Regions from separate parts of the Homo sapiens genome. Here region 2 is linked to region 1. A link means that fine-mapping ties the variant in region 1 to the expression of a gene that starts in the linked region. Tissue or cell type: whole blood. Region 1 holds a variant in brackets; the other region holds the start of a gene. All regions are shown on one strand. Distances are from middle to middle.

Region 1 (2,681 bases):
CAACCCTGCAAGGTGTATCCCCAATTTACAGGTGAGAAAACTGAGGCTCAGGTTAAAGTACAGAACCAGGGTTTGAGTGCTGGTGTCTGATGGTCTGATTCCGTATATGTGTCCTATGACCCTGCACAGTCCTACACCTACCTGGGACAGGTCTGCTTTCCCTTAGGGGCTGTCATATGTCCTCTTGGTTTCTAGAAGCTCTGGTTCTGTCTCCTCCATTTCTTCACATCCATGACCCAGAGCCCTGACCCTGTGCTTCTCCCCGTCAGGTGTGACCCGGGCTGGGAGGGGCTGCACTGTGAGCGCTGTGTGAGGATGCCTGGCTGCCAGCACGGTACCTGCCACCAGCCATGGCAGTGCATCTGCCACAGTGGCTGGGCAGGCAAGTTCTGTGACAAAGGTAGGGGGGAGGAAGGGTAGCTTTTGGTTGGGAACCCCATGTTCTTAGGGGAACAGCCATCAGTATTTATTGAGTGCCTATTTTGTCCTTGTCAAACCCTCAAATACATGGTATTTTATCATTTTTTTAAATCTTAGACTTTTTATATGTTGTCTGAATTGATCCTCAACATAACCCCATGGGGCAGGAAACACAGCTGCTAAAAATTGTACTCATTTTACAGATGAGGAAACTAAGGCCCACAGAAGAGCTATAACCTGCTCAAAGTCAGGTTTTTTTGTTTGTTTTGTTTTGAGATGGAGTCTCACTCTGTCACCCAGGCTGGAGTGCAGTGGTGCGATCTCGGCTCACTGTAACCTCCGCCTCCTGGGTTCAAGTGATTCTCGTGCCTCAGCCTCCCCAGTAGCTGGAATTACAGGCACCCGCCACTTCAGCTAATTTTTGTATTTTTAGTAGAGATAGGGTTTCACCATGTTGGCCAGGCTGGTCTCGAACTCCTGACCTCAAGTGATCCACCCGCCTTGGCCTCCCAAAGTGCTGGAATTATAGGCATGAGCCACTGTACCGGCCTAATGTTTGTATTTTTAGTAGAGATGGGGTTTTGCCATGTTGGCCAGGCTGGTCTTGAACTCCTGACCTCAAGTCATCTGCCCACCTTGGTCTTCCAAAGTGCTGGGATTACAGGCATGAGCCACAGTACCCAGCCCAAGGTCAGTTTGAGACAGACTGAGAGCCAGGGCCAGGAGCCTCCTGACTCCAAATTCAGTGTTGTTGTCTCTCCCTAGCATACCACGCCAGCCTGGGCTGGGTTTGTAGTATAGCCACACCTACAGAACCTGGGGCCTGGAAGGCGTGGACAAGTCTGGTCTGGGGACCAGATGGGAGGGGTTATCCCAGAGCCTTTCCTGTCCCCTCTCCAGATGAACATATCTGTACCACGCAGTCCCCCTGCCAGAATGGAGGCCAGTGCATGTATGACGGGGGCGGTGAGTACCATTGTGTGTGCTTACCAGGCTTCCATGGGCGTGACTGCGAGCGCAAGGCTGGACCCTGTGAACAGGCAGGGTGAGTGCTGGGCCCTCAGGGTGAGTGGAAG[G/T]TTAGACCAGAACCTGGTGATGGGATGAGAAAAGAGGCAGGACTGTTGGGAGGGTGGGGGACTGAGAGTCAGACCCACACGGGGACACTCAGATAAAACCCCTGCATGCCAAAGTGTTCCTAGTTCAGGGTTTCTCAACTTTTTTTTTTGTACCTTCTGAGCCATTTCTTCAACAATCTATAGGAGCTAGAGGGGTAACAAACGTGTGACTGTTCTGGTTGGGGAGGGTGGGTGTGGGGAGACTGAAGGGCCTGGGTCTCTCCTCATCCTCTCCTGAACGCTGGCTTGCACCCTTCTGTGTCACAGTAGGGATGAGGAAACAGCCTGCAGGGCTGGACTTGTCCTCATTTCTGCATCAGGCCCAGGAGCCTGTGAGGATAATAATAGCACACTTACCCTGAGCCCTGCCTTCTGGCTGGGCCCTGTGCTAATGGCTTGACATTGATTATTTCACTCAACCCTCACAATTAGGGAAGCTGGGTACTATTTTTATTCTCATTTTTAAAATGAGGTATTTGAGGCTCGGAGTGTGTAGCCCAAGATGACATGGCGGGCAGTGGTCAGGATACTGACCTGGGCTGCCCTACAGGTGTTGGTAAGTTGGTTATCATGTCCTCTCTCACCCCTACCACAGCTCCCCATGCCGCAATGGCGGGCAGTGCCAGGACGACCAGGGCTTTGCTCTCAACTTCACGTGCCGCTGCTTGGTGGGCTTTGTGGGTGCCCGCTGTGAGGTAAATGTGGATGACTGCCTGATGCGGCCTTGTGCTAACGGTGCCACCTGCCTTGACGGCATAAACCGCTTCTCCTGCCTCTGTCCTGAGGGCTTTGCTGGACGCTTCTGCACCATCAACCTGGATGACTGTGCCAGCCGCCCATGCCAGAGAGGGGCCCGCTGTCGGGACCGTGTCCACGACTTCGACTGCCTCTGCCCCAGTGGCTATGGTGGCAAGACCTGTGAGCTTGTCTTACCTGTCCCAGACCCCCCAACCACAGTGGACACCCCTCTAGGGCCCACCTCAGCTGTAGTGGTACCTGCCACGGGGCCAGCCCCCCACAGCGCAGGGGCTGGTCTGCTGCGGATCTCAGTGAAGGAGGTGGTGCGGAGGCAAGAGGCTGGGCTAGGTGAGCCTAGCTTGGTGGCCCTGGTGGTGTTTGGGGCCCTCACTGCTGCCCTGGTTCTGG
Region 2 (2,681 bases), 25 kb after region 1:
CAGAAGAGCAGCTATTAAAAATTGGCACAGTCTTTTGGGAACTCAGTCTAATGAGAAAGCAAGAAAGACCTCTTGGATAGAGACACTTCCCCCCATCAGACTAGGAACTCCCAAAGGCAGAGACCACACCGTCCTCCTATCTTCTCGGCAGCCAGAATGAGACTAACTTTAGTCATCTCTAGCCATACAAGAACTAAATACAAAATCAAGTTGAGTTTAGCATCCACACCTTATAGCCCTTAATTGGGGAAGGCTTAATGTTTGATTTTGCTCTTCTTGTCTATCTACTGCTTCCTCTTCAGCTGAGCCTAGGTATGCTTTTCTTAATCTGGAAACACTAAGGTTTCATGGGTTGCAGTGGTGAGAAACTGAGCCTACAACTTAAACACATCATCGCTTTTGGCTAAAAACGTTGTTCCCCCAATTCTGCCTCCAATTCATGACAGCTGAGTCCGGGTAGCTGAAAATGGACAATTCTGATGATTTCTGATACTCATCGGACCTTTAAAAACATGCCAGGCGCTGCACTATATGCTTAAATTCATTATCTCATTTAAACCTCCCAACAATGAGACTCAGAGAAGGCAGGTACTTGCCCAAGAACAGCCACATTGCTGCTAAGTAGCAATGCTTAGATTTTATTCTACTTCTGCCCTACTCCAGAGACCTCGCTATTCTGGTGACACTGCCGGAAGATGTAGGCCGCGGGTGAGATCTGCAGGCACACATGGACAGATGCCTTGCGCCCGTCTCTACCCACCTCGGGGTGCCCAAGTAACAGGCACTGAGCACGGCGAGGAGCGCGTGGGGCAGGGCGCTGAGCACCAGCTGGGTGAAGCAGTGGCCTGTGGTGTCCCCCTCCCACAGCGGGAGCGGCCACGCTGCGCTGCTGCCGCACAGCTGGGCCAGAAGTCGTTCCATGGACGCCTCACCTGAAGGGAAAGTTGAGGGTGACGGCTGTGCAGGGTAACAGCCGGCTTTGCCTGCACTTCCCAGCCGGGTCTCCCTGTCTCCAGCCCCGCCCTGGAACCGGGACCGCCCGTCGCTTCCGCCCCGAAGCCAGACCCCGCCCATTCTCGCGGTACCAAGGGTAAAAACGGGAGGAGGTTTCCCCAGTGGATTTCTGGACGCTGGTCACCCACCTTGCCATCTGTTTTTCCCCTCCCGTTTCTCCGCCCCCAGGCATCCGGAACCTCAAACCTGAAGAAGCTGCTGTGCACCGGATTCCGATATCCTGAGAACTGGTGTATGCAAAAAAAAAAAAAGTACTGCCCGGCCGGGGTGCTGGGCCCGCCCCGGCTGGCACCCCACCTAGAGGTTGGAAGACCTAGCCGGCGCTATTCGCCACGCCCATATGCTGGTAGCTGCACGCATGTGCACTGCTCTCTGCTTCGGCTGGCCTTTGCACGCAGGCGCGCTGGTGCAGACGCACAGTTGCGTTTTGGTACGCTTTTGTGGCCTGACTTGCGTTAAGGATCCATCCCTCCCTTAGTGCAACGTCATTTATAACCTCTCACGTGGAGTATTCGCTCACAACTGTGTAAGCTTACTAGTTGGCACAAGCATTGCAATCTCCATTTCTTGAAGAGGTGGGGAGCCGGGCACGGTTGCGCGCCTCGGTAGTCCCTGCGCGCCCGTAGTCTCTGCGCGCCGGTAGATCCCAGGAGGATGGCCTGAGCCCAGGAGTTCGAGAACAGTCCAAGCAGCATAGCGAGACCCCAGTCTCAGATAGATAGATGGATGGATGGAAATTCAAACATACCTGCCCCACGGACAAATAATGCCATTTTGGGACACACTGTTTTCCCTTATTATTCTAGGGCTGCATGACCTTGGACAAGTTACCTAACTTTTTTGAGCCTCAACTTTTTTTTGGGGGGGGGACGGAGTCTCGCTCTGTCACCAGGCTGGAGTGCAGTGGCACAATCTCGGTTCACTGCAACCTCCGCCTCCCGGGTTAAAGCGATTCTCCTGCCTCAGCCTCCCGAGTAGCTGGGACTACAGGCGCGCGCAACCACGCCCAGCCAATTTTTTTGTTCGTATTTTTAGTAGAGACGGGGTTTCACCATGTTGGCAAGGATGGTCTCGATCTCCTGACCTCGTGATCCGTCCGCCTTGGCCTTCCGAAGAGCCGGGATTACAGGCGTGAGCCACCACCCCGGCCGAGCCTCAACTTCTTTATTTGTACAACAGGGACAATACCAATACTAAAGTACTGTTGAGAGAGTTGAATAATTAATTTAGAGTGCTTAGGGCAAGTGCTTTGCCTAGGGTAGTCCTCCAATAAATCTTTTAAGGAAGCAGTGGGAAGAACATAACCTTTATAATTATACGGACCTGGGTTTGAATGCTTTTAGCAGAGGGATGTTGGGCAGGTTACTTCTGCATCTTTATTTTATTATGTTTGTCAGGCATGGTGTTGGTATCCGCCTTTACATAGGTGTGTACAGTGCTTGAAGAAGAAAAGCTAAACAAATGACAATTATGGTTATCCCACTTAATCTCAGTAAGAAGCCCCATATCCCTCAACGTCAAGAATTAATTTTCCTATTTTTAAAAACTAAGAGATGTAGGTTTGCATTTCACAATCTTTAGTAATTAATTAACAGAGTCTTGCTACCTGGCCCAGGCTGGTCTTGAACTCCTGGCCTCAGGTGATGCGCTTGCCTTGGCCTCCCAAA

The links. PIP is the estimated chance that this variant, and not a neighbour inherited with it, causes the effect.
Region 2: ABCC10 starts here. The variant in region 1 is fine-mapped to the expression of ABCC10 in whole blood (TOPMed, PIP above 0.99).

The regions. Positions count from the first base shown.
Region 1 is chr6:43,450,724-43,453,404 of GRCh38, reverse strand. DLK2 (delta like non-canonical Notch ligand 2) reads left to right here. Exons shown (of 6, transcript NM_023932.4): 4 at 270-400; 5 at 1,321-1,465; 6 at 2,131-2,681. It also overlaps a transcript of ABCC10 not described here. Among named protein-coding and RNA genes, the nearest start is that of DLK2, 3.5 kb to the left of the region's middle. The variant G/T (reference allele first, on the strand shown) is at 1,497.
Region 2 is chr6:43,426,219-43,428,899 of GRCh38, reverse strand. It overlaps ABCC10 (ATP binding cassette subfamily C member 10), which reads right to left and starts at 1,359. Exons shown (of 22, transcript NM_001198934.2): 1 at 1,143-1,359; 2 at 761-932. The coding sequence starts at 921. RefSeq lists an enhancer at 713-782.